Linked DNA regions of Homo sapiens: all the other regions are reported to be linked to region 7. The links are microRNA targets in miRTarBase. Many come from high-throughput screens and were not tested one by one. Region 7 holds a microRNA gene; each other region holds the end of a gene's coding sequence.
Evidence for each region. Region 7 holds the annotated microRNA hsa-miR-4284 (GGGCUCACAUCACCCCAU, at 2,496-2,513, shown strand). A microRNA usually pairs through its seed, bases 2 to 8, with sites in the 3' UTR of a target mRNA and lowers its output. Matches are read on the target gene's strand: a 7mer-m8 pairs with bases 2 to 8, a 7mer-A1 pairs with bases 2 to 7 and ends in A, and an 8mer does both.

Region 1 (4,068 bases), not on the chromosome of region 7:
CAAGAATGCACTGTTGAGGGACCCTTATGCGCTGCGGTCAGTGCGGCACCTCATCGACAACTGTGCCTTCCGGCTCTACGGGCACTGGGTAAAGAAAGGGGAGCAGCAGAACCGGGCGGCTCTCTTTCAGCACCGGCCCCCTGGGCCTTTTCCCATCATGGGCCCTGAAGAGGAGGGAGACTCTGCTGCTATAACTGAGGATGAGGCCGTGCTTGTGCTGGGCTAGGACCTCAACCCCAGGGATTCCCAGGAAGCAGAACTCTCCAGAAGAAGGGTTTTGATCATTCCAGCTCCTCTGGGCTCTGGCCTCTGGCCTCAGGCCCACTAATGATCCTGCTACCCTCTTGAAGACCAGCCCGGTACCTCTCTCCCCACTGGCCAGGACTCTGAGATCAGAGCTGGGGTGGAAGGGAGCCATTCTGAACGCCACGCCTGGCCCGGTCAGTGCTGCATGCACTGCATATGAAATAAAATCTGCTACACGCCAGGGAGAACAGGTGTCCTGTGTCTGTCTGGCTTGGGCAGGAAAGCCCAGAAGGTGCTCAGCAGGGTGCAGGGATGGTGCCATTCTGGCCCAGACCTTTATTGGGGAAAATGTTGGGGGTCACTTGGTCTTGCTCTTGCCTTTACCCGGAGGTAGCTGGAAGGGCCGCTCTAGTGCAGTCAACTTGCTGCTGAGCCTTTCCTCGCTGGCCTTGAGCCGCTCCTCCACCAGCCCCTGGAGCTGCTCCAGCTCTTTGTTCACTTGGGTCTTGATGTAGGCTCGGAGGACGTGGATGTGGCCTGCAGGGGCAGGGAAGAAGGGGCAGGGTGAGGAGAGATGCTGTCTGGCAATGGGGGGATGGTCCCTAGTTGGGCAAACAGTCCCCAAATTTCCCCTGGTGGGGATATAGAGGTAGCAATGTTGTTTCCCTTTAGGAAATGTTAGCAAGCCCTTGTGTGAGAGGTAGTTGGGTAGGGTGGCTATGCTGGACTTTGCAGCTTCAAATTCTGATCCCTACTCAGTAGCTGTGTGACCTTAGGCAGGTTATTTAACCTATCTGTGCCTCAGTTTCCTTGTATGAAATGTGGATAGTGATACCTAGCACATAGGATTGAGGGAGGATTAAATGAGTTAATTTATGTAAAATGCTTAGAGCAGGGCATGCACTGCACACCTATTGCCAAGTATGTGCTGGCTGTTATTGTCATTGGCTTTCTCTTTTTTTTTTTTTTTTTGAGATGGAGTCTTGCTTTATCCCCCAGGCTGGAGTGCAGTGGCAGCGATCTCAGCTCACTGCAAGCTCTGCCTCCCAGGTTCATGCCATTCTCCTGCCTCAGCCTCCCAGTAGCTGGGACTACAGGCACCCGCCACCACGCCCGGCTAACTTTTTGTATTTTTAGTAGAGACGGGGTTTCACAGTGTTAGCCAGGATGGACTCGATCTCCTGACCTCGTGATCCGCCTGCCTCAGCCTCCCAAAGTGCTGGGATTACAGTTGTGAGCCACTGCACCTGGCCTGTTCTTTGTTTTTTTTTAACTCTTAAGTTCTGGGATACGAGCAGAACATGCAGGTTTGCTACGTAGGTATACATGGGCCATGGTGGTTTGCTTTACCCATCAACCCATCATATAGGTTTTAAGCCACCGTCATTGGCTTTCTAATGATCATTTCTCTGGAGCCACTTCAGCTGTGCTTTTTGTTTGTTTGTTTGTTTGTTTTGAGACAGAGTCTTGCTCTGTTGCCCAGGCTGGAGTGCAGTGGCCAGATCTTGGCTCACTGCAGTCTCCACCTCCTGGGTTCATGCAGTTCTCCTGCCTCAGCCTCCTGAGTAGCTGGGACTACAAGCGCGCACCACCATGCCTGGCTATTTTTTGTATTTTAGTAGATAGGGGGTTTCACGGTGTTGCCCAGGCTGGTCGCGAACTCCTGAGCTCAGGCAATCCGCCTGCCTCAGATTGTGCTGGGATTACAGGTGTGAGCCACCACGCCTGGCCTGCAGCTGTGCTTTTATCTGTCATCTTGGACTTCTGCATAAGGGATCATTTAGAGAAAGGACTCTGACTAAAAACAAAAAGTCTGAAGTCCTGATGTCATCCAAACCCTTCATTCTACACCTGCTCAGAGGGACAGGGCAGCCTGCCCTCTCCAGATCCTCACTTGGCTCTGGCTCTGGTGGGGCCACTGTCTCTAGTTCCTCTTTCTGCGGGGTAACTGCCTGCTCCTCCATCTCCTTGCTTTCTTCTTTCTCTGCAAACCAGAAGCAGGAAGAGACTGTGGCCCCAGGCCTGGCCCAGCCCAGCCCTGCCCTGGCACTCTCCCTTACCCGTCTCACTCTCTGGCCACAGTTTGGGTGGCTGTAGCCCCATGTAAGTCAAAGACAGATCCAGCCGCACCTGGGAAGCAAGGCAGAGGGAGGCTGAAAGGAGTGCACCTGTGCTGAGGGGAGGGGCGGTTGAGGGTGGCTCCTCATGGTCCACCACCCCCTACCTGGGGTGTGAAGACGTATTTATAGAGCTTGAAGTGGCGGAAGTAAGTGTTGACCACGTAGTCTTCCAAGGCCAGCAGCTGTTCCTCTTTGAAGAGGTCGATGCTGAAAGGAGGCCGCTGTGGTGGTGACTCGGAATTAGAACCCTGACTACCTTCCGGAGCCCTGGCTTTGCCTCCAAAAGCCCAGCAACAGGAGCAAGGAGAGCCCACTGGGGTCTTCACAAGAAGATAAGGGTGATGAATGTGAGAGAGACTGGGTGAGACCTTGTCTGGGGATGGGTAAAGTTTCCAGAATGTTCCAGGGGAACTGACCCTGACTCCATGGCAAAAAAGGACACTGGTGAAGTAGCGGTAGCACTCCTCCACGTTGCCCAAGGGGGTTGCTGGTAGGGAAAGCAAGATGCAGCAGTGAGGCCCTCTCTGGTATCCATTCATTCACTTCACTCAACAGCTGTTTATGACCATGAGCTTCAGAAGCAGACAGATCTGGGTTTCAGCACTGGCTTGTTTCCTTAACTCATGTAACAAATACTGAATACCCACTATATGCCCACTGTATGGTTTTCGGCACTGAACAAGACAGACAAGGTCCTGCCCTTACGAAGCTTATATTCTAGGGGAATAAACCAAGAAATAGATCATTTCAGCTATTAAACATTCTGAAGCAAGAGCTATTAAACATTCTAAAGCAGGTGTTATTGTGCACTATGCATATATTTGCATATATTATTTCTCAGAACAGTCCTGTAAAATGTGTGCTGTATCCTTAATTTCTAGATAAGGAAGCAGTGGATTGGAAAGCTGATGGCTTGTGTATGATGATGCTACTAATAATGACATATTCCAGGCAGAAATCCCCTGCTTCTGCTTCCCATGGTCACTTGTGCCAGGCCCGGTTCCTCTTCTCCCTGGGGCTCAAACCTGGTAGCTGCCCCCTCTCACCAATACAAGCCTTGTGAAGATCCTGGAGCAGGGCACAAGCCGCTGACGTCTGCTCCAGTGAGAAGCCCTGCTGGCGGCAGAAAATGAGCGCGTGGCAGAAGAGGTCCAGGGTGATGGCGTCCCTCAGGCTCTGCTCAGGACACCCTAGCTCCAGCAGCTCAGCCAGCACCCTTGGGAGGGAGAGAGGAGTGAGTGACAACTGGGCCTCCTTTCATCACCCTACACCCACCACATGCTTTGGAGTCAGCCATTCCTCATGTTTTCCCAACCTGACCCCTCAGCCTTTGCCAAGAGCTCTTCCCACGCCCCCCTCAGTCCCTACTCCCTCATCTCAGCATTGGTGGTCTTCTCCAGCTGGTGCATGGAATGGACGTCCAGGTACTTCCTGTTATAGTAAAAGAAAAAGAGTATTGGTGGCCGTTACCTATCATGACAAGGCTGTGACAGCTAGTGCGTGAGACTGGGAGTTGGCCACCGGCGTGAAGCTGGGCTCTTTTGCCAGCTTGCTGTGTGACTATGCAAATCGTTAACTCTCTGGGCCTAAATGAACTCTTATGAGCCTCTCCATTTCTAAAGCCTAGGGTTAGGAATCTTGAATTCTTTTTTCTGCTCTGCCACTACCTTGTATGACCTTGGTCAAGTACTCCCTGTGGCCC
Region 2 (4,077 bases), not on the chromosome of region 7:
ATGATATAATGCAAAATTTATTACAAAGCTAAAGTAATCAAAATAGTGTAGTACTGGCATAAGGACAAACATATAGACCAATGGAATACAACATCCAGAAATAAACCCTCACATATGATTTAGAACAAGAGCACCAAGATCATTCAGTGGAGAAAAGGCTAAGAAAACTGGATATCCAAATACAAATGAACAAAGCTGGACACTGACCTTTCACCATATACAAAACTCACAATGGATCAAAGACTAAGAGCTAAAACTATAAAACTCTTAAAAGAGGAAAATCTTCATGACATTGGGTTTGGCAATCTTCTTGAATATGACACCAATAGCATAGCCAAAAGAAAAAAGACAGATACACTAGACTTCACCAAAATAAAAAAAATTCTGTACATCAAAGGACACTATCAAGGGAATCAAAAGAAAACCCAAAGAATGGGAGAAAATATTTGCAAATCATGTATCTGATAATGGATTACTAACTAGAATAAAGAATGCCCACAACTCAACAATAACAGAACCCAGTCAAAAATGGGTGAAGGACTTGAATACACATACACATTTCTCCACAGAAAATACACAAATGGCCAGCAAGTACAGAAAAAGATGCTCAGCATCACAAGCTGTTAGGGAAATGCAAATTAAAACCACAATGAAAGGAGACATCCAGTAAGACAGCTATCATAAGGATACCCATTAATATAGTTATTTTAAAAAGAAGAAAAGAAAATAACAAGTGTTACAGAGGATACGGAAAAGCCAGAACGCTTGTTCATTGGTGGCAGGAATGTAAAATAATGAAGCTGCTATGGAAAACAGTTTGGAGTCCCTCAAAAAATTAAACATAGAATTATCATATGATGCAGTAATTCTATTCCTTCATATATACCCAAAATAACAGAAGGCAGAACTCAATTATATACTTCTATAATAATGTTCACTGCAGTATTATTCACAATACCAAAAGTCTCCATCAACAGATGAATGGATAAACAAAATGTGGCACATACATACAATATTATTCAGCCATAAATAGGAATGAAATTCTGATATATGCTATCACATGAACCTTGAAAATAATGTGTGATTCCACAGGTGCCATGAGGCACCTAAAATAGACAAATTCAAAAAGAGAAAGTAGAATAGAGGTTGCTAGGGGTTAAGAAGAAGAGAAATGCATTACTTTAATTGCACACAGAGTTTCTGTTTGGGGTGATGAAAAAGTTTTACAAGTAGACAGCGGTGATCATTACACAACATTGTGAATGTACCTAACCCCACTGAATTACATGCCTTAAAATGGTTAAAACTGTAAATGTGGCTATGTATATGTTACCATAAAAAAATTTAGAACTAAGTACCCAAAGCCTTCACACCACTTGTGGTGAGCCTTTTCTTCCTCAGTTGAGATAGTGATAAAAGAAATTACTTAGGTAATACTTTTTGAAACCCTGGTTGGTAGTGATGGCCAATAGCATCGCCTCTCCCCGTACCCCAAAACACACATCCACACACACACAAAATACACTCAATACCCTATCAAATACCTAGAATTATATTTCACAAAGGATTACACAACCAATAATTTCACTAATGATGCAGTTTATATCCTCCCATACTGACAGATAAAAACACATACATTCTCTAAGCACAAAGCTTATAGTCACAAATAACTCTCTGCTTAAAGACAAAATTTCAATTAATCACAATGGGAATTTAGTTATTTAATGCAACTACTAATCTAATGTCATCAACAAAATCTAAGCAGTTTTATCACAAAACCAGGGTTATATTCAGTGGGCATGCATTAATAATCTATACAACTTTAACATTACACCAGAAAAGGAATTGAATATATAAAAGTTCCCTTGATTTTTGGTGGTTTTCAAATTTCATGGCACAGATTACAAAAAAAAAAAAAAAAAAAAAACCCTGTAAAAACAGATTTTAAATATTTTCCATAAAATGGTAAAAAATTGAATATATACCTTTAAGTTTTCATACCGGGCTGAAGATTTAAAACATCAAGCTGGCCCCAATCTGTCAAAACTGACAGATAAATATTTACAATGACTAGACAGACTTTAGTTACAAAGGTACTGGAGGTCTACACCCTATTGAAAACCCTTTAGGGTTAATTTCTCAATGCAAACATGTCTTTTTAAATACTGTGATATATAAAGTTGGAAATATACCTAGAGTCTGGAGAGAGATGAAATATAACACCCAAGTCAATCTTATTTCTGATCTGTCAACAAAGCTTTCTGGCTCCCAAACACCCAATATTGTTCCTCAATATAAAAATTAAGAACAGTAGAATGACTTTACCCTACTGGCTGACGTTTTTCTACAGAATTATCTTTCACTACATATTAAAGCAGGGCTCAAGCTCTATTAACCTTCTACAGAGTGTAATTAAAAGAGCGCCAAATTTATAAACTGATGTGGCAACCCAAAATGATATAATTTTCCAATGGAAACAAACTTTTTTCCATTGTTCTGTGTGCCATGTTATTCTTGAAACTTATGTGGCTACAAATAAGAAAAAAATTAGGGAAGCTTTGAACATATCTTGTACTTTTCATCAAGGCTAAAGTGCAAAATATCTCCATTATCTCTGGTATTTTAATGGGGAAAAACATCACATATAATACAGGAAATGAAGTGACAGCAGAACTAATACAAAAAAAAGCACTCTCAAACGTATACTTGAAGACTATATTTTACTACCAATTTAATTTTTCTTTCTTCAGCAGAATATGTCAATGAACCAAGTTCTCATAGAACTTAAGATTTTGTTTGATTCTTCCCAGGACCAGAAATTCCAAAATTACAGGGAAAAAGAATGGAAAAAAAAAAACATTGCATGACAATGGACACTAAGTTCATAAAGAACTTCTTTTTAAAATGAGATATTATGGAAGAAAATACCATGAAAAGAATAATCCTATGAGAATTGTTTTTAAGGACAGTAAATTTGAGCCTTGGGTCTTCATGAAGATACTACAGTTTATATAGAAAACTATAAATATACAAGACTCCGGGGGAAAAAAAAAGTCAGAATACATAATATTTAACATTCTGTATGACTAAAAATCTTTTGAGGGGAGCAGGAAAAGGACAGCCAACTGAATCTTATAAGAATACAGAAACTATGAAAAATTCCTGGGTCAAAATGGTGCTCCAAGTGGAAACACACTTTGTGGGGAAAAAAAAAAACACAAGAAACTTCAGATATATTTTTTTAAAGGAAAGAAAAAAATACTGAATAATTGCAGTCCCTTCCAAAAAGGAAATCTTAAATAAAGGGGAAAAGATTTGAATAGCGTAAACTAGTCTGGCTCAGAAAGAAAATTGAACAACATATCCAAGATCTGTCCATAAAAGTAATGCCAGTACATCTTTAATATTAAAGAAATAGGCTATAAAAAAGTTCAGTCTCAGAATTGGTTTTTAAAGGCTCATTTGTGCTCCTTTGTAGGTGCGTAATAAAGTTCCATGGGTTTGTTCACTTTCCAGTATTTCTCACTGACCAATTCCAAAGAAAAAGAGCCATTTAATACCTAAAACAAAAAAGAAAGAAAAAATTATGAAAACTGCACAAACCACAATAATAATGAAATGAAACTAAAATGGAAGTCCACAGAATCTTTTTTTTTCAAATCTTAGGAATAACTACTTGTCACTTAACACTGTTACGGTTTTTTACATTATTTATTAGATTCTACCCCACCACTTGCCACTCAGTTAGTTGGTCAGTGTGCTCCCAGTTTCAACAGTCTATTATTTTAAATACTCACAGTGAACTGGCCACTGGCTGTTGCTATATAAATGGTATACTGCTTCTCACTGGCTGTATCAAGGTTCATCTGGTTTGATTCACCTTTGCTTCGAAGTTCTTCTAAAGCTAACCTCACAGCCAGATACTTGGATAAGTGATCAACAGTGGCGTTACCAGAAGTCTTTATGTATCTAGAAGAATAAATCATTAAAAATTTCATTTCTAGAATATGCCAATGAGAAAAATGTACTTAAATTATGGAACTAATACATTTCTTAAAAACTAAGTAAAATGGCAAT
Region 3 (4,077 bases), not on the chromosome of region 7:
CAGGGTTTCACCATGTTGGCCAGGCTGGTCTCGAAGTCCTGACCTCAGGTGATCCACCCGCCTTGGCCTTCCAAAGTGTTGGGATTATAGGCGTGAGCCACTGCACCCAGCAAAGGCAGAATTGTAGGTCCCAACAAAACAAGTATGTTGGGGGGAAGGAATAGAACATTAAAAACACTCCATGTGATTCTTAAAATCACTGCATCTGAGAAAAACTCTACATATACTTTCAGCAGAGACAATCTTGTCAACAAATATTTATCTTTATTATTGACTAATAAAGCCTGAATATAGGATCAAACATTTCTTTTCCCTACACATAAAGACAAGGCTGTTGCTATGTATAACAAAAGCAGGAAATACTGTTTTTTGTTTTTTTTTTTTTGAGAAGGAGTCTTGCTCTATAGCCCAGGCTGGAGTGCTGTGGTGCGATCTCGGCTCACTGCAACCTCTGCCTCCTGGGTTCAAGTGATTCTCCTGCCTCAGCCTCCCAAGTAGCTGGGATTACAGGTATGCGCCACCACGCCCGGCTTTTAGTATTTTTAGTAGAGACGGGGTTTCATCATGTTGGCCAGGCTGGTCTTGAACTCCTGACCTCAGGTGATCCACCCGCCTCGGCCTCCCAAAGTGCTGGGATTACAGGCGTGAGCCACAGCGCCCAGCCAATACTTTTTTTTTTTTTTTTTTTTTTTTGAGACGGAGTCTTGCTCTGTCGCCCAGGCTGGAGTGCAGTGGCGCTATCTCGGCTCACTGCAGCCTCCTCCTCCTCCTCCCGGGTTCACGCCATTCTCCTGCCTCAGCCTCCCGAGTAGCTGGGACTACAGGCGCCCGCCACCACGCCCGGCTAATTTTTTTGTATTTTTAATAGAGACGGGGTTTTACCACGTTAGCCAGGATGGTCTCCATCTCCTGACTTCGTGATCCGTCCGCCTTGACCTCCCAAAGTGCTGGGATTACAGGCATGAGCCACCGCACCTGGCCAATACTTTGTTTCTTAGTAAGAGGCCAGCTGCTGCTAAAACAAGGATTTACCCTCCAGTATGAGGAGCCCAGCTTGGTCCCCCTGAGGAATCAGGTGACCTCAGCTGTAGTGGCCTTAGGCACATCCAACTAGTGTAAGCCAGGTGTGATTAGGATCGTGGCATCTCCTATTTTGGCACAAGGATGATTCCGCTTTAGGATCCCAGAGATAATTCTATTTTTTAATGTAGTTTCTCAGCAAAGACAGTTCTTGAAATTGCCTTTCCAGTTTTCCATAGGTTGACAGTGATTTCCCATTTTTGTCAACTCTTTGAGTTTGCGATTCCACATTTTTTTCAGAAGTAATCTTCCAATTCCATAAATAAATGAAAACCAAACCACACAGCTGGAAATCAAGTTTTGTTTTTATATGAACAGAAGTAGACCATCTAGAAATATTTCAGTTTATTTAAATTGTTAAGTAGAATATGAAACCGAATTTGTAGCTAGTACCAGAGAATGGACTTAACTGTTTGGTGTTTAATGAGAACAGCTTCTACACAGGATCCCAAGAGACTTACAGAAAAGGGGCAAAGCCCTAATATTAAGCAAATAAAACTCATGTTTCAAACAGATTATACAAAAATTGATTTATACTTCATTTCCCTTTTTTGATATTTAGAAAGTGCAGATTTAACAAAAGGTAGCCATATCCTTTCTATGTACAATGCCGATTATAATTATGCAAAACTGTCAGTCTGTTATCCAAAAATCCCAGTGTTTAGCTCTCCAACCTTAAGTCATGGAATTGAATAAGAATTAAAGAGGGTTAAAATAAAAAAGCTAATGCCACATTCCAGATAAAGGGAAGCAACAAATACATTAATCTAACAACAGTAGGTTTAACCTAAACTTTTCAAAAAGCTTAACATCATTTCATTATATTTTTAGTGGAAAATTAGGGATTATTTGGCAATGCTGCTTTTTACTAGTAGTAAACAATGATAAAGTCAAGTGTGGGAATAACCTAAGAATAACAACCAGTGAGGCATATAAAATTGTTTTTAGGGCACTATCTGAAAAATTTGTGGATTTTCATAGCAGATACGTCCCTATGTTGTTTGCTTATGTGAGCCAAGAGGTCATTAAAATGCTATTCACGACACAGAAAGACTTCTCAATGGAAGCTGCTGTCCTAAACTCAGCCTCTGCTAGAAATGAATCATGCTATTCACAATTCTTTCAACAAAGGTATCATCTTAGGATGCTAGCAGCATAGCAAACTTCACTTACCCTATCCTAATGATAAGCAATGAAGCAAAACTAGAAAAAATGCAGTGAAAAAAGGACAGGGTTAGAGATAGCTAAAGATCTTATCTTTACATGAAAAGCCTTTCGTTGTCCTTTTTCCAAACCCATGGTAATACAAGTTTTCCAAAAGGATGTAAAGACAGGACTTAAAATTAATAATATTCTAAAGTATTTCTGAATCTTAAGGTAAAGAAACTTAACACTGAAAAAGTGTTCTTCAGAGGCCAAATCTCAATACATTTGGCAAACATGTTAATAAAATTCACTCCTCCTTCCTGCTTTTCCTTTTTTAAAAAAACAACCTGTACTAGGCTACCAAGCTGCTAGAGGAGTTGCCAAAATGCAGACTACTCAAATTTAGGTTAAGAGATTTATTCTAGGAAAGTGAATAGGCTATACACCTAATTAGAAAGACAAACCACAACACCCTCCAAACACTAGTGCATGCAGTTAACTCTTCCATTTCATAAACTCAATGGATAGACAGGAAGGGAACAAAGAGAGGAGGAAAAGCAGAACATAGAAGTAAAACAGCAAATGAAGGCATCTGGGACACATTTTAGGGAAGAGAGCAAATGAGGGGGGAAGACACCAATTAACTGACATTGGATAGTAGGCAGTTAGAACTTATCTTTCCGTTTACCTAGCAAGTTACATCAGTGCTTTATATTAAACTTGACAAACCTACTAGTTTGTCCCTTTCACTCTTAAATATACCATGAGGTGGTTGGGGAGGGAGAAGCAAATAAAGCAGCATGCAGGGAGACGCAAGGAAGAAGTGGCCAAGGAGAAGAAATGGTGGCAGGAATAGTTTTAAATATCAAGGCCACTTAAAACAAGACTCAGCAAACCAAAGCTATCACTTCTGCATTACCCTTTGTCCTCAATTAACTACTTTGAAAATTACAGCCAAGCAAACCACAAACATTTTAATGGTTTATGTTTGGATGATATGTCTCCTGCACATGCTTCCACCAGAACAAAAAAGGAAAACCAAAGAAGTTCCTTTCCACATAAGGCACAGGACAAAATTAATCCCATTTACATATTCAAGGCGAAAATGAGTGTTTTCCTGGCTTTTGTTTGTTTCTTTTGCTATCACATGTCTATAGATTATAGGGACTCAAGCACATTATCCATGACAGAAAATTCCACTGTTGTACAAAATAAAATTGTTAATTCTAACTTTATTCTTATACAATTTGCAGAATAGATTTGAAATGATTGCTATAGGTTTTAATGTTGATAAGAACTGGACTATAATACAACTGAAATGCAGTTGAGCTGAGCAAGTACATTTAAAAATGAACTCACAGACATGATTTTTCTATACATTTTTTTGTTTGAAGAAAATTATGATAAAGTCAGCAAGCAGTCACAGATGAAAGAACAAATAAAATAGGTGGCTTGGATAGTTAAGATGAGAAACAAAAATATCTGTTTAGAGTTAAAAATGGACAGAGTGGTTTATTTTGCAGCAAGAAGAGAAAACGGGGTAGTGGATGGCAACTGATGGAACAGGAGAATGCTCAGCAGCATTTGCTCTTCCAGCCTGTCACGCCTCCTCCACTGCTGATATCTACATTTTCACTGTTGGGCTCTTTTACAGGGGTCTGCAACAAACACACAAGGAAAATAACTCATGAAAAAACACTGCCATGGATAAAATCACGATTCAACAGGAATATTCTTATGTCAATTTATACAACAAAATACAACTACAATCACAGGAGATAGGTTTCCCCTCCGTGCAAAGTAAAGATTTGGAAGCTTTGTTTTGATTTTCTTTTTGCCTGCTTCCTCCAA
Region 4 (4,073 bases), not on the chromosome of region 7:
TTGTATTTTTAGTAGAAACGGGGTTTCACCATGTGTTAGGATGGTCTCAATCTCCTGACCTCGTGATCCGTCCGCCTTGGCCTCCCAAAGTGCTGAGATTACAGGCGTGAGCCACCACACCTGGCCATCCCATGCTATCTTTTTAAAAACCCTTGGCTTGCTTTATTTTTGTATAAAACTCTATTATGGAAATGTTTTAGAGTAGAGAGAATAGTATTACTATCATAAATGCCCATGTGCCCATTACCAAATTTCAAAATCACCAGCTCATGTTTGTCCCACTATCAAAACTTCACAAGTGAGATGCTCGCTTGGCTTAAGCTGTTAACTGAGCATTCATTGAACTGTGAAGGCAGAGTAAAATCATCATCATATATGAAATCCTGTAAATAGATTGTGAAAGGTTACCTCTAAACTGTAAAGTGTAAATAGAGAATTTGTTATCTCACAGAATAAAATTCCCCATGTAATATGTAAATCTAGAAGGAAACACAAAAGTTAAAAAAATTGCTCACAAAGGGCAGAAGGAAAAAAAGTAAGACTAAAATAAAAATAAAATAAATGTTTAAGATTCACAAATGGTAAATCAGCTGATCCTTAACTTTCTGAAGTCCTGTATCTGTTTCCCCCAAAGAAGAAAAGACTGATCATTCTTTGTTTGTTTTTCAGGAATCCTGGGAGCAGTAATTTACAGAAAATAACCAAGGAGCCAATAATTGACTATTTTGACGTCCAGGACTAAGAAGATCATGATGCACTTAGATAAAAGAATGATTAGGTATAGTGGAGACTTATTTGCCAGCAGATAAATCATGCCCGTTCCCCTCTGCCTGGCAGAATCACAGTCTCACATACTGTCTTGTACTGACACATCCAAAGCATGAGTGTGTCAGAAATCCCTTGTCTATTCCTGTCTGTATAAAGTGTTTCATTATGACCAGATCTCTGATTGTATGGTCACTAGGTATGCAATCACGCATTCAAAGAGGCTCTTTACACCATCACTGTGATTGCTCTGAGAGTTGAGGGACTATTGGGCTTTATTTGGACAAACCAAACTTTTAGCCTGAAACCAACTTTATGCCACTAAGTCATAGCCTCAGTTGTCCCAGTTATTTGTCCTCCTGAAAATGCCTGAAACATCAGACAGACATTGCTTGCTTTACCCAAACTGATCAAAATCTTTAGGAGCACAAATGAATTTTTTAGTCTGAAATACCAAATAATGAATTGGTATACCATATCCGGAATCACACATGTTATCTTAAACCCAGCCATCATACCTAAGTCTTTTGCCAAAACCTCTCATAGGTATATCTAGCTGAACTTATTTTGGCATTTTCAATGTGATCAGTTCTAGACCTAGAAGGGGGTCAGGCTGCTTTACAGAATTCTATTTCCTTAAGTCCCTGGCACTTCTCATACCACATCACTGAACCTGTTCAGTAACAATCAGTTTGGCCGTCCCCCATGATGGTAGGAAATATAGAGAGCAAGTTCTTCTGCCAGGGTCACACTGTGGTCTCTGAACTGACCAGTATATCCCTAACTCCTCTTTGATAGAGAAAGAGTCTCAAATGGACAACTGTCCTGTGTTGCTTTCCCTAGGCCTTCAGCAGCCTATTGGCTCTCCCTGCCTCTGAGCTCTGGACTCTGTTTGAATATTCCAAGTAGTATATGGACAGTCCAGGGCTTATGCCCAGCAGCCCACTGGAGGCATTCTTCAGGCTCCTTTAAGGCAGGTGCATTGATAGTTCCATTAGTGTGACCCTTGCATTGGCACCCCTCCAGCCTGGAGGCCAGGCTTCCAGCAACTTCCTTCTGCCCTAGAGCAAGCCATGAGCCCCAGAGCAGTAGCAGGAGACTTGAGAAGTAGAGTGACAAAAACAAGCACTTAATTAAATTATAAAATTTAACTTTATAGGGCTGCCTTTTGGTGTTTTCATTTTTTTATTTCTTTTCATTTTTTTTCCTCAATCCTCCTCCTCCTGTAGCAGGGCTGTCCTTTGGTCCTTACCCAGTCTGCTTCAAAAGGGATCAGGTACAGCAGCAGGAACAGGTGACTGGAGGGAAGTGACACAAAACAAAACCACCTCTCTCTGGACCCATGTAGTGCAGGTCAGTGGCCCCACACACAACAGGAAGCCCATGAGCATCTGTTACCTCTTTCAAGCAGTGGGTTCAGTGGGTGAATAGTACGTGTGAGAGTATCTCAGAATCAGCAAAAGGCAGGAGACCTGACTTCAGATTCTAGCTGTGCCACATAATTTGCCGCTTGATGCGATGAAAGTTTCACTGACCTCATTAGGGTTATGAAGATTAAAGGAGTAATACACGTGGAGGTACCTGATCCTCAAAGTTCATAAAAATGATACTTAGTATCTAGAAAATATGTACACATCTTCCTCCATAATACTAGCCAAGTAGAAGGTGTGGAATGCTAACCAGGCCTCTTCTGGTGAATATTTGCATGCCTACCCTGTGCCAGCCTTGTGCCAGGGCTGTGGGAAGCAGCCTGGTTTCGTACATTTAGTAATCCAGGGAGGACACACGTGAACAGATGTTCTCAGTGGAATTGGCTAGTCTGCCACCAACAGGTTGTTAATCGGTTATTAAAAGCTGAAGAGTCCTAAGAGGAATATTTTGTGAAGTTGCGGTAGAAATGGGTTAGCTCTGGGGGTCAGAGCAGGACACGTGTGGGAAAGTGAAATGGGAGGAAGCATTTGAGCTGAGGCTTGAGATGGTAGGCTGCCATTTGGAGGAGGAAAGAGGCCCATGCTGAGAGAAGGTAAACAGCAGGAGACAGGGCTGGGGGAATGGTTGAGTAAGGGTTGTCCAGAGCAGGCAGACAACTAGGGGCACAGGTGATGAGGCTGGACAGGTGGACAGGGGTCAGCTCGTGGAGAGCCACAGGGAGTGACAAGAATTCTAAGCAGAGTGGCATGGCCAGATTTAGGATCTAGACCAGGATTCAGCAAATGTTTTGTGAAAAAAGATCAGATAGTAAATATTGTAGACTGTGAGACTTATAGTTTCTGTTGCAGCTATCCAACTCTGCCATCGTAGTGTGAAAGCAGCCGTAGACAATATGCAAATGAAAAGAGTAAGGCTCTGTTCTAATGCTTTATTTGTGCACACCGAAATAATTTCATATGATTTTTATGTCACAAAATATTCTTTTGACTTTTTTCCCCAACGATTTATAAACATAAAAACCATTCTTAGCTCATGAGTTGTGCAAAAACAGGCAGCAGGCTAGATTTGACCAGGGACTTTATTTTACCCACCCTGTTCTGGAGCAGTCCCTCAGGCAGAAGAGTATAGAAGGGATTGGAGGGCTACTTGGAGGCAGGAAGCTCAGCCAGGAAGCTGCAGAAGTGATCCGGGTGAGAGAAAATGAGGGTGATGGGGGTTGGCACTGCAAAGAGGGAAGAGATTCAGATCAGGGAGGTAGGATTGGATGCCAGAGGTTAGCGGGAGAACTAGCCCCCCTCATATCACCAAGGGGAGACCCCCGGTCTCCTCAGCAAGGGGAAGCTGCTGCTTGTAGCTTTGGTGGATTCCTCACTGAGCAGTGGCACTGGACAAGAGTGTACAGGAGCATGAGCTAGACGGGAAGACCCCTGTGCCTCCACCACCCCATGCATGGAGGGAGGGCACCAGGACCCCAAGCTGTTGCTCCCTGAGAATCAGGTGGTAACTTCTCTCCCTGCTCCCATACTCTCTTTCAGCAGGAGAGTTTTTATGGGCTAGAGCTTTCCAGCGACCAAATTCTTCTCTCTGAAATTCCCTCTGGCTTGTTTGGCAGGGCCGGCTGTTCTCAATAGTGTTACCTGCCTGGCATGCAATAGTGGGTGTGTGCGGGACTGTGGAGATGAGAGCAGGCCCTCCTAATTGCAGGTCTGTTGGCCACAGCCCTAGATCCTGTCTTGGAGAGGCCAGAGAAGGTGGCAGGGGAGGAGGAGGAGGAGGAGTGTCAGTCTTGAGGGAGGGGGAAGGGCAAAGACTCGCTCACTGAGTCCTATAGATTAAGGTTTGGGGGAGAATCCCTCCTGTGTAGTGCTGGCCTTCCT
Region 5 (4,000 bases), not on the chromosome of region 7:
CCCGGCCTGGTGTACTTATTTATTTTTTTGAGACGGAGTCTTGCTTTGTCACCCGGTTGGAGTGCAGTGGCGTGATCTCGGCTCACTGCAACCTCCGCCTCTTGGGTTCAAGTGATTCTCCTGCCTCAGCCTGCCGAGTAGCTGGGACTACAGGTGCGCCCCACCACGCCCAGCTAATTTTTGTATTTTTAGTAGAGATGGAGTTTCACCATGTGGGCCAGGATGGTCTCGATCTCTTGACCTCGTGATCTGCCTGCCTCAGCCTTCCAAAGTGTTGGGATTACAGGCATGAGCCACCACGCCTGGCCTTGGTGTACTTACTTTTAATGCTTAGAGTACTCATCACACCTGCAAGACATTCAATAAATGTTTGCTGAATGAAAGGGACAGATGAAGCTGTACTATCCCTGTGATCACACAGGGAGATAAGGCAGTGCTAGCCTCATTCCAATGCTTGTTCCAAGCTCTCTTGTCTCATCACAGGGCTGTTACAGGCTCAGATGAGAGGACTGTATACATCTCTTAATGCCTTGGTGATACAAAATCCCATGAATTTCTTCTGATAGTTTGTTGGGGGACACTATAAGTTTAAAATTAAAGGGGGAGAAGGCCGGGCACAGTGGTTCACGCTTGTAATCCCAGCACTTTGGGAGGCCAAGACGGGCAGATCACCTGAGGTCAGGAGTTTGAGACCAGCCTGGCCAACATGGCAAAACCCCAACTCTACTAAAAAATACAAAAAAATTAGCAGGGCGTGGTGTTGCATGCCTGTAATCCCAGCTACTTGGGAGACTGAGGCAGGAGAATCACTTGAACCTGGGAGGCAGAGGTCGCAGTGAGCCGTTATCACACCACTGCACTCCAGCCTGGGCAACAGAGTGAGACTCTGTCTCAAAAATAAAATAAAATAAAATAAAATAAAATAAAATAAAATAAAATAAAATAAAATAAAATAAAATAAAATAAAATAAAATAAATAAAATAAAATAAAATAAAATAATAAAAGGGGAGAAACTCAGCAAAAATCACTTTTGGGCTGGGCATGGTGGCTCACACCTATAATTCCAGCACTTTGGGAGCCCAAGACAGCAGGATTGCTTGAAGCCAGGAGTTTGAGACCAACCTGGGCAACATAGCAAGACCCATCTCTACAAAAAAATGACAGAATTAGCCAGGTGTGGTGGTACATGTCTGTACTCCCAGCTACTTGGAAGGCTGAGGTGGATCACTTGAGCTCAGGAATTCAATGCTGCAGTGAGCTATGATAGTGCCACAGCACTCTAGCCTAGGCAAGAATAAGACCTCACCTCTAAAATAAATTTTAAAAAATCACTTGCGATTTTCTGCACTGCAGCCTAATAGAGCTTTAATAACTGGGAAGTGACCTCATCACATCTCCTAAATGTGACAGGAACTAGGAACACATCTGACCTTATGCACTTTAATACTACCTTTTTTCAGCATTTTTTTCAACATTTCTATGCTGGGACTAAAAAAATCAAGATGTGCTCCTCCACTAAAACCTCCACTGTCCAATTGGAATTGCAGTCTAGACAATTCTAAGGAAAAGTGATGGCCATATTCTGAAGAACATAAGTAGGTCTCAGTAGTTATAAACTCTTTTCACCAAAATGCTGTTTGATCCTCATCCTGAGAGCATTATTTAAAAAAATCTCCAAAGCTCACCACTCATTAATAACCTAACAGTTTTTCAAGACTGTGGGATATAGCAAAGATGCCTCTGCTGTGTCCTTGTTCTCTCTGCAAGCTTTTTACCAGGTGCTGGACTGGAGACTTGCTGAGTGCTAGACCACAGTGATTTGGTCATAGCTGGATGTGAAGATGGCTGGCTGTTCTTTCAGAAGGGACCTGGCTGGAGTTCTTATTGCTCAAAGCTCCAGCTTGCAGCACTGGGCTAGAGCTGATGGAAGGAGAGCTGTTACTATTCTGTTCTACGTGAATGCTACACTGTGAAAGAACAGCATCATCCGACTTGGGCAACAAGATAGTATTCAAGATGTCTTAGAAGGCCTAATCAGAACTTACCAGCTGTAGCATAGCACTCCCTCAAGTGCAGATGCTGGACCTCTGCAGCAGAAATTACTCAAGCTGTTCAGTATAATAGAAATGAAAATTCCCCATCCCATCCTTAACCTATTATCATCAGATACCTTAGGGCAGGGGAGGGGAGTAGACAAAAACCTGATTTTATTTTTATTTATTATTTTTTGAGGCAGAGTCTCGCTCTGTCGCCCAGGCTGGAGTGCAGTGGTGCGACCTCGGCTCACTGCAAGCTCCACCTCCTGGGTTCATGCCATTCTCCTGCCTCAGCCTCCCCAGTAGCTGGGACTACAGGCGCGCGACACCACGCCCGGTTAATTTTTTGTATTTTTTAGTAGAGATGGAGTTTCACCGTGTTAGCCAGGATGGTCTCAATCTCCTGACCTCGTGATCCACCTGCCTCGGCCTCCCAAAGTGCTGGGATTACAGGCGTGAGCCACCGTGCCCGGCCAAAACCGTGTTTTAAAACAAACTCTAGAATAACTGATGTCTGTAAGTTGGAGAACTGATGTGCAGGACATGATCCACATGCCTCTAATAAAACACCTGGAGAGGCAGCTATTGTGGATCGAGACTCCTGTCCTTAGTCTTCACCAAGCAGCACAGGCTGTGGAACCGAAGCTTCAGGTTTGCCTTCACTGGCTGAACTATGGTACCCAGAGGGCAGGAATCATGTCTGCTCTTCACTGATGCTCCTCATTCCCAGGAACACACAACACATAGTGTCACGCTGTAAGCAGAGCCAGGCTAGTAGTAGCCAGGAATAGGTCAGCTACCGAGGTGAGCGGTACCTAGTTGGTCTTCTTGGATCTCAGCCATCCTCATAACCTTTCAAAAACTCATTCATAGGAAAAACTTCAAAATGTCCTGCTTACCTGCAGTTACTAAATCCAGTGAGGTAAAGATGCTCCCAGTCTAGAATTGTACTCTAGCCCCTAAATCTTGCTGGGAGTCTCAGGAGAGGGTGTGATATACCTAAGGTTACTCCCTGTGATGTTCTGAATGGTGAGCACTTGTTTCTGCTGACTGTGGTCGCCAGGGATCGTTACCCACTTGACACGACAGGAGAAAACAGGTCACAGATTAACTGGCAGCCACACAGTGCATATGTATGGTAATATGGGGGGAAGGGTAGCACACAGACAAATCATCTGCCCAAGTGCATGCTGAGTGGATACAGATCACAGGCTGAGCACCTGGGGGCAGGGCTTTAAATCTTGGACTAAATTCACTCATGAGCCCTCCAGGATATCTGCTGGCAGGTGCACTGAGGATGTACATAGCACATGTGTTTGATAATGCAGTCCAATTGGGGAGTGGATAAAGTGCATTTATTTTCTTCTATGTTTGTTTTTGTAAAAAGGAGAAAGGAAGCAAAAGACTCCTTCCTTTCAGACCCAGTGTCCACTGAGCTTGGAGGGGGTGGAGCCGGGACCAGCCCCCTAGGAAAAGGTGTAGGAATAGAAGGCAATGGCATTGGCGCTATAGTCCATGGGGAGGAGGTGCCCGATGTGCCTGGCCCCTAGGCTGGCCCCACCCAGAGCGGAGGAGTGCCTCAGCTTCATCAGGGTGAAGCTGGAGAAGAAGTTCTGAGCCTGGATCTCTCTGCCCTGGGTCAGCGCCAGAAGAAAACCTGGAGGGAAGAACACAAGGACAGAGATAAGAGGAGAACAGCAACCTGTACTGGGGCCAGGAAGGAAGACAGACAAGGACGCCCAGACCCTGAGGTACTCCTGTAGAGATGCTGGAGGGGCCTACATGCCAAGTGCCCAGCACACAGGGTGCACTGGGTACTCGAGTATTGGAGCCAGCAACATAGGGGGCCTGCTCTCCTCTCAGCTCCAAAGGACCCAATGCCAGGAATTCCATGGTAGCAATGGGAGTCCTTGAGCTACTTCAGAATGTCCGGTAGAAACCATCCAACTGCCTGGCATAAGGC
Region 6 (4,077 bases), not on the chromosome of region 7:
GGAGATGAGTGAATAAACATATGAGCACTGAACAAACATATACAACCCATGTACTTCTGAGAAGATTAAGGGATTTTAAAATTACTTATCTAGCTTTGGGAGGCCAAGGCGGGCGGATCACGAGGTCAGGAGATCAAGACCATCCTGGCTAACACGGTGAAACTCCAACTCTACTAAAAATACAAAAAATTAGCTGGGTGTGCTGACGGGCACCTGTAGTTCCAGCTACTCGGGAGGCTGAGGCAGGAGAATCGCTTGAACCCGGGAGGTGGAGGTTGCAGTAAGCTGAGATTGCGCCACTGCACTCCAGCCTGGGCAACAGAGTGAGACTCCATCTCAAAAAAAAAAAAAAGGTCAAATAAAATCCAATACTCTGCACTGACCATTAGTTTCACCCTTAGAAATGTTACTTGATTTTTTTCAATTATTAAAAGGTTTCCAACATGTAAATGTACACCAGTTAAAGTGTCCCTGCAATGTATTCATCACTGTTGTGATGAGCAGCCATGTAGTAACTTTCTATTCTTCACAAATCTGTGAGGTAGGTGCTGCCATTATCAGGATGAGAACTTAAACATCGAGAGGGTAAGTCATTTGTCTAAATTCAGACACTGGACAGGAGTAGAGTGGGGACTTGATCCTGTCTGGACTGAAGTCACGGAGTGCCTTTAACTGACATGCTCTATTATGATTGGTGAGTCATCTGCTATTAGATTTCTGGATGTGAGCACATCACATAACTAGTCTTTTCCTTTCTTGCTGTAACAATTGCCTTATAACATTTCGGATTTCTACTCATGTAAAGTTACAGGTTTCAGGTACTATCTCTACCTGGAAACAGACAGTGTAGACCATCTGTGTGATTAAGGGAAAGAGTTCAGAACCCCAGCAACCCACAGTGGAGAAAACCACCTAAGCCTCCAGTGAGGGCTACTAAATCTTGCTGAAGTTAGCGTCCATAAGAAGGTCATTTTGTCTAAGTTCATCAAGTCTTGTGGTCACAGGATTATATCTTTAGAATGCTGGTGAGCAGCCATGCTAACGAAAGCCCCCTTTGGCTAGGAGTTTAGTACTGGGAGGGGTACTGGGAGAGGATAATATAAAGTGATTATTTCCCTTGTCTTTGCTCATCTGCACCTAAATCATGAGGATCTATGGATATGCACCTCATCAGAAGAGTGCACATAACAGCAGCAAGAGAAAAAGCAGCACAGAAAACACAAGGTCACTATGCTTTCCTACACAACAATCACTTGTCAGGCAACTGTCTGAGATACCTAATTCTCCCCAGAGTGGATGTCTCCTTGTACACGCATATGTGTGACACACACACACACACAGATATAAGTTGGCTCCGTGTCCCCACCCAAATCTCACCTTGACTTGTAATAATTCCCACGTGTCAAGGGCAAGACCAGGTGGAGGTAACTGAATCATGGGGACGGTTTCCCCCGTGCTGTTCTCATGATAATGAGTGAGTCTCATGAGATCTGATGGTTTTATAAGAATCTGGCATTTTCCCTGCTTGTACTTCTCCTTCCTGCCACCTTGTGAATTTGTGAAGATGCCTTGCTTCCCCTTCACCTTCTGCCAGGACTGTAAGTTTCCTGAGGCCTCCCTACCATGCTGAACTGGGAGTCAATTAAATCTCTTTCCTTTGTAAATTGCCCAGTCTCAGGAATTTCTTCATAGCAGTTCAAGAATGAACTAATAAACTACATATATATGAAATAACACTATATAGTATATAGCACTATAAACTATGCTAGGGTACTCAAATTTCTTTCAATATAGATGCAAAATGTCTCAAAAGATGCTACAAAACTGAATTTACCAATATATAAGAAGACTTACACTTCATTACCAAGAGAGATTTAACCCCCCAAAAAAGCAATGTTGTTTTTGCATCTAAAAGTCAATTTGGCTGGGCACAGTGGCTCACATCTGTAATCCCAACACTTTGAGAGGGCAAGGCAGGAGAATCACTTGAGCCCAGGAGTTTGAGACCAGCCTGGGTGACAAAGTTAGACCCAATTTCTTATTTTAGAAAGTCAATTAATGTGATATACCATGTTAACAGAATAAATTTGAAAAACCACAAGATCATTCCAATAGATGCACAAAAACCATGAGAAAAACTTCAACAACACTTGACAATGAAATATTCAATAATAATGAACAGCAGGAAACTTTCTCAACCTGCTTTAAGGAATTTATTTTAAAAACCCTCAGCTAACATCATACATGATGATAAGACTGGATGCTTTCTTTCTCAGATTAGACACAAGACACTGTTCGATCACAGGTCTCTCTCCTTAAACCAATGTTACCTATGCAAATAGCCAAAAATAATGACAATGTAAAGAACAACAGATGAAAATAATAATTCACGTGAGAATATACTCTATAATAAACTTTACATACTTACAAATTGACAGCAACTCTATTAGCAAAGAAAATAGACTCATTTATCAATGGCCAATTAATAACAAAATAATTAAACTACACAGAAGTTAAACCTACAAATACATTTCACACATCTACTGTGTAACCCACAAAATTTTTAAAAAATTTTAAAAATATTTTATACTTTAAATATTTAAAAAATATTTTTTAAAATGGCTATGCAAGAAAAAAGGAAAAGAAATACATTTCAATTTACCCATATAACCAACACACTTTAAAATGGGTAGAAAAAGGAAATTTATTTACCAGCTTAAAAAAGAAGAATACATATTTAACTCTTGTACTACTGCTTGAAGAATACTTACAGAAGTCTTGCCTCAGCTGGGCGTGGTGGCTCACGCCTGTAATCCCAGCACTTTGGGAGGCTGAAGCGGGCGGATCACGAGGTCAGGAGATTGAGACCATCCTGGCTAACACGGTGAAACCCCATCTCTACTAAAAATACAAAAAATTAGCTGGGCATGGTGGCAGGCACCTGTAGTCCCAGCTACTCAGGAGGCTGAGGCAGGAGAATGGCGTGAACCTGGGAGGCAGAGCTTACAGTGAACTGAGATTGTGCCACTGCACACCAGCCTGGGCGACAAAGTGAGACTCCATCTCAAAAAAAAAAAAAAAAGTCTCACCTCAATTTTTTTTTTTTCAAAAGAAGTGAAAATCTATATTCTAGAGACTCTCTTCAAAAATGAGCAACCAATATATTCAATTTATTTATAGCTCCTAAAACATCTCATTCACATAGTGAATTTTCTTGAGAATTGTACTATAATTATTTTCCATAAGGTTTTCCATAATATTTACATTTACAGGATTTATTTCCAGTGGGAGTTTTCACATGACCTTTAAAGTAATTGTTAAAATTCAGAATTTTCTGTATTTCTAGGATTTCAATCTGGTGGGCATTCTTTTATTTATAAGGTCAATCTGGAGTATGTGTTACCATGTGTCTCTGAGTGAGTTATAGGATAAATGAAGGCATTCTCACATTCGATACCTTCATAAAGTTTTTCTCTAGAATGAGTTATGTTATACCATCAAATACCACTGGAACAACTGCAGGCCTTACCACATTTTAAACATTCATATGGATTTTCTTCAGTGAGTCCTTTCAAGTTTTCAAAAAGAAATGGAAAAATTGAATGCTTTACCTTATTGCTTATAGTCATAGGGTTTATCTCCAGTTTGATTCGTTTCATGTATTTGAGGAAATCTGGGAAAATTAAGTACTTTCCTACACCTTACATTCACAGTTTCTCTCAAGTATGTGACTGTTCATGTTTTTGACAAAAACTGTAGTGATTAAAGCCTTTACATTTTTTTACATTTATAGGGCTTTTCTCCAGTATGAGTTTTTTTATGCTTCCAAAGGGTACTAGCACGACTAAAGGCTTTGCCACATTTCTGACATTCATAGGGTTTCTCTCCAGTATGAGTCCTTTCATGGTCACGAAGGGAACTGGAACATCTGAAGCCTTTACCACAATTGTTACATACATAGGGTTTCTGTGCAATATGAGTTTTCTCGTGTTTCTGAAGGGAACTGGCGTATCTGAAGGCTTTCCCACATTGCTTACATGGATAGGGTTCTTCACCAGCATGAGCCTTTATATGTCC
Region 7 (4,070 bases):
ATCCTTCCAGACCCAGATGGGGAGGAGTGTGATCCCAGATTTAGCTCCGCTCTGAGCTTCCATCTATTCACCCTCAAAACGGTTCATTCGTTGGCACCCCGGAGCTGCTGAGCCAGGTGCAGGTGTGAAAGAGCACTGAACCTGGCTCAGAGGCGAGAGTGGCCCCCCAAGTTCTGCCAGTGTGCGGGAAGGGTGGGGTGTGCTGGCTCCCACCTGCTCAAAGAACTCATCCATGAAGCGGTCTCGGTCCACGGTGACAGCGACATCATCATCATCATCGCTGTCCTTGGCCTGTGCGGGGTTGTGCACACATAAGTGGACGTATGTACAGGACCCACCTGTACACACGCAGGTGCCCAGGGTACAGCGCCAGGGCCCTGCCCCTCCCCCTCTCCCTGGGGGCCTCTGGGCAGGGACAAGAACAGGCCTGGCTGTTCCGCTCCCAGCCACAGTAAGATCTGGAGGACCACTGGGGGCCCGGCACAGAGAGAGGAACCTTGCCTGATACACTGGTGTCAAGGCCAAGTCTCAGCCTCTGGGCCAGGGACTTCCTCCCTCACCTATCTGCCTGCCCCCTCCCTGTGGCTGGGGAGGCAAGCGAGCCTGGGGCCGGCCGCTCTGTCTGGGCCCTCTGGGTCCCCTAGGCCCCTAGGACAGCTGCCTGGAAAGTGCATTCTCTACTCTCCTGGCCCTGTGGTTTACACACACACACACAAACACATACACACATCTGTAGAGTTGAGGTCTTGCTGTGTCACCCAGGCTGGAGTGCAGGGGTGCAATCACAGCTCACTGCAGCCTTAAACACCTGGGCTCAAGCGATCCTCCCAACTCAGCATCCCGAGTAGCTGGAATTATAGGTTTCCACAACCATGCCTGGCTCCAGTGGTTTTAATTCAGGTGGAGCCCAGAGGTCCCAAGCTCCCTTTCCAGAGTGGGCCCTATAAGGGGAGACCTGCCTACTGTGTCCCAGCCCTGGGCACCACTAAACCCCAGTCCCGAGGTGGCACGGATCAGATCTCTTAGGAATCTCCTGTGAGTCTTTTTTTAAAACAGTTTTTAAATTTAATTTTTATTTTTGTAGAGACGGGGGTCTCACTGTGTTACCCAGGCTGGTCTTGAACTCCTGGCCTCAAGCGATCCTCCTGCCTCAGCCTTCCAAAGCACTGGGATTGTAGGTGTGAGCCACTGCACTTGGCCTCCCTGTCGGTCTTGCCATTGGACCTCGGTCTGCCTCCTTCCAGTCCCCAGACCTGGGCCCAGCAGGCACAAGGGGACAGTCATGTTGCCACTTGGCTTGGGTCCTGCCTTAGGCCTCAGCCACAGTTACAAGCCCCACTCCACTGTCCCAGGACCAGCTGTACAAAAGCCACCCCCATCGTGGGGCAGGGGTAATCATACTTCTGACTTCCCAGCATGCTGCGCACAATTATTACTGTCTGCCTCATACCGCCAGTTGGCCAGGGTCAGCCCACGCTGCTGGCAAGGCCAGGTCTCTCTCTGCAGCCAAGGCAAGGATATCCGGGGTGGCCACCCTGGGGCAGGGACTGAGGTCTCTCAGCCTGGGGCTCAGGGCTTGTTCCCACCTCTTTTATTTTTATTTTTTTATTTTTTGAGAGAGTCTCGCACTGTCACCTAGGCTGGAGTGCAGTGGTGTGATCTTGGCTCACTGCAACCTCCACCTCCTGGGTTCAAGCAATTCTCCTGCCTCAGCCTCCCGAGTAGCTGGGATTACAGGTGCATGCCACCATGCCCAGCTAATTTTTGTATTTTTAGTAGAGACAGGTTTCACTATGTTGGCCAGGCCGGTCTCGAACTCCTGACCTCAGGTGATCCACCCGCCTCGGCCTCCCAAAGTACTGGGATTACAGGCGTGAACCACCACATCTGATCTTGTTCCCACCTCATTTCTGAGTGCCTCACGGGAGTGGCCACTGACTAGCTCAGCACTGACCCCACCTCGGTGCTCTCGCGTCAGGACGGAGGCAGGTGGAGGTTGAGGGGCTGAGAGAACTGATGGGACTCATCAGGCTGGGCCTTAACCCCTCTGGCTCTATTTACTCTTCTGTGAAATGGGGACAGTGACACCTGGCTGCATGGAGGGAGGGCTGAGAAAAAGTGGGGAAGCAGGGCAGGTATGTTTGTTTGATTGATGGATGGACTGATTGATTGATTGAGACAGGGTCTCGCTCTGTCACCCAGGCTGGAGTGCAGTGGCACAATCATAACTCCCTGTAGCCTCAACCTCCCGGGCTCAAGCCATCCTTTCACTTCAGCCTCCCAAGCAGCTGGGACTACAGATGCATCAGATGCATGCCACCACACCCAGCTACTTTTTGATTTTTTTTTTTTTTTTGTAGCGACAGGGTCAAACTATGTTGCCCAGTCTGGTCTCAAACTCTTGGGCTCAAGTGATCTTCCCACCTTGGCTTCCCAAAGTGCTGGGAGTATAGGTGTGAGCCGCCACCATGCCCGGCCTGAGCATGTTCTGTGAGGGGCTCACATCACCCCATCAAAGTGGGGACTCATGGGGAGAGGGGGTAGTTAGGAGCTTTGATAGAGGCGGCTCAGAGGGGCCTCCTCTCTTTAAGATATCGTACCACCTCCCCAGCAGCTAAAATAAATCCTCGTTCCCACTCCCCACCGAGTGCCTGGGGCTGTCACCAGGTGGTACCCCCTCCCCCACCAAGCTCCCTACAGACACAGAAAATCCAGGAGCCGTTTTCACGCTTTTAGACCGTGACAGGCCTAGGAGTTGAGTCAGAGGAGCCCTCCCTAGGGAAACTGAGGCAGAGCACTGCCAGGAGGAGCCCAGTTCCTCCTCCTGGGCAGGCTGCCAGGTTGGGAAGTGGCCCCAGGAGCTCCTGCCATTCAGTGTCCTGCCCTCTCTGCCCTGGTGCTCAGAGGATCAGGGTAGATGACAAAGGGTGGATGGAGAATTATCCAGCTCCTTTTCCGTGGCCAGAGACGAGCGTCACTGCCAGCCCCACCGAACCCCTGTCCTGCCCTCAGAGACCCCTGGCACCTGTCTGGTGCCTCTCTTGACCTCAGCTTGCCCATCTGTGTAATGAGGGCAGATCTTCTCCAGGCATCCGGCCAGCTCTGACCTGCTACCTTCCCAGAAGGCTGAAGGCTGGACCAGGAAGCTTCTCTAACAGAAGGGCTGGGAGGAGAGATGCCCGCATCCTCCTCTGGACCCTCCGTCTATGAGGGTAGGGCTGGGGAAAGGGAGATCAGGGCCAGGGTAGATGGGGGCACGCAGGTCAAGTCTACCCTGGAGGTGGCATTGAGATTGGCCCCAAAGCCAGTCGGGGGGCTGAGGGCCTGACCTCTGAGGCATGGTCAAACCAGCCACAGCTCCAAGCAAAACCTAGAGGGGATGGGCGAAGTGGGCCTTTCCTCCCCACGTCCTTCTACTTCTTCGTTCTTGGGAATTTTCACCCCCAGCTCTGCTCTTTATCCTGCTGCCCTCCCCTGGGATCAGACCCCACTCCCCCACACCTACAACTGGTTCCTGGCCCTACAATCCACCCTCTGCCCCCAACTTCCCCCAGGCACATCCCTTTGCCCGGGATGCTGATTCCATGAAGGTGACATTCCCTTCTTCCTCGATGCCACCTCCTTCCAGAAGCCTCCCTGCCCCCCCAAATCAGTATCTCGCACCTTGTTCTTCCACACGCCATTCACATTCCTATTGGAGCCATGGCTGAAAACTCTCAGGCCCTAAGGGACCTGAAAAGTCCCCCTGGCTTCAGCTGCCAGCCTCAGCTTGCAAACCTCCTGTGACAGTGAGCTCACTAGCTTCCCCAGACAGCTCTGCCCATCTCGGGCAGCCCCAACTGTTAGAGTCCTTCTCTTCCCTGTGGTTTGGTTCCAGGCCATAAAGAACCTGTGGGTGCCCTCTCCCTGGGGTACCCCTGCTATAGATTTGAAGGCGGCATCCACATCCTCCCTAGATTTTTCTTTTTAAGTATTCCTTCCCTTTCAGATCCTTCCCAGGGACCCCAAATTACAGCCCCTGCCCAAGAGTTGTTCCACTGTGCCTCTGTCTCCTGTCATACAGCACACAA

Region 1: the mRNA of PHKG2 is a reported target of hsa-miR-4284. Seed matches in the 3' UTR shown: 8mer at 1,480-1,487 and 8mer at 1,958-1,965.
Region 2: the mRNA of RNF2 is a reported target of hsa-miR-4284. Seed matches in the 3' UTR shown: 7mer-A1 at 3,336-3,342.
Region 3: miRTarBase lists RAB10 as a target of hsa-miR-4284. The part of its 3' UTR that is shown has no 7-base or 8-base seed match.
Region 4: miRTarBase lists NFX1 as a target of hsa-miR-4284. The part of its 3' UTR that is shown has no 7-base or 8-base seed match.
Region 5: miRTarBase lists NAGK as a target of hsa-miR-4284. Seed matches in the 3' UTR shown: 7mer-m8 at 2,282-2,288.
Region 6: miRTarBase lists ZNF124 as a target of hsa-miR-4284. Seed matches in the 3' UTR shown: 8mer at 2,798-2,805.

The regions. Positions count from the first base shown.
Region 1 is chr16:30,756,872-30,760,939 of GRCh38, forward strand. It overlaps PHKG2 (phosphorylase kinase catalytic subunit gamma 2), which reads left to right. Exons shown (of 10, transcript NM_000294.3): 10 at 1-4,068. The coding sequence ends at 226. CFAP119 (cilia and flagella associated protein 119) reads right to left here. Exons shown (of 9, transcript NM_001014979.3): 3 at 3,735-3,797; 4 at 3,413-3,582; 5 at 2,783-2,853; 6 at 2,471-2,587; 7 at 2,307-2,376; 8 at 2,141-2,230; 9 at 552-783. The coding sequence ends at 605. Among named protein-coding and RNA genes, the nearest start is that of CFAP119, 3.2 kb to the right of the region's middle. RefSeq lists enhancers at 2,052-2,151, 3,116-4,068.
Region 2 is chr1:185,099,683-185,103,759 of GRCh38, reverse strand. It overlaps RNF2 (ring finger protein 2), which reads right to left. Exons shown (of 7, transcript NM_007212.4): 6 at 3,798-3,969; 7 at 1,157-3,560. The coding sequence ends at 3,459. Among named protein-coding and RNA genes, the nearest start is that of TRMT1L, 55 kb to the left of the region's middle.
Region 3 is chr2:26,134,745-26,138,821 of GRCh38, reverse strand. RAB10 (RAB10, member RAS oncogene family) reads right to left here. Exons shown (of 6, transcript NM_016131.5): 6 at 1,368-3,884. The coding sequence ends at 3,801. Among named protein-coding and RNA genes, the nearest start is that of GAREM2, 36 kb to the left of the region's middle.
Region 4 is chr9:33,369,237-33,373,309 of GRCh38, forward strand. NFX1 (nuclear transcription factor, X-box binding 1) reads left to right here. Exons shown (of 24, transcript NM_002504.6): 24 at 670-1,921. The coding sequence ends at 742. Among named protein-coding and RNA genes, the nearest start is that of AQP7, 31 kb to the right of the region's middle. RefSeq lists an enhancer at 3,384-3,884.
Region 5 is chr2:71,078,012-71,082,011 of GRCh38, reverse strand. NAGK (N-acetylglucosamine kinase) reads right to left here. Exons shown (of 10, transcript NM_017567.6): 10 at 2,204-3,694. The coding sequence ends at 3,504. Among named protein-coding and RNA genes, the nearest start is that of NAGK, 11 kb to the right of the region's middle.
Region 6 is chr1:247,152,795-247,156,871 of GRCh38, forward strand. ZNF124 (zinc finger protein 124) reads right to left here. Exons shown (of 4, transcript NM_001297568.2): 4 at 2,195-4,077. The coding sequence ends at 3,772. Among named protein-coding and RNA genes, the nearest start is that of ZNF124, 17 kb to the right of the region's middle.
Region 7 is chr7:73,708,832-73,712,901 of GRCh38, forward strand. It overlaps MIR4284 (microRNA 4284), which reads left to right and starts at 2,486; the gene lies at 2,486-2,566. It overlaps STX1A (syntaxin 1A), which reads right to left. Exons shown (of 10, transcript NM_004603.4): 2 at 214-291.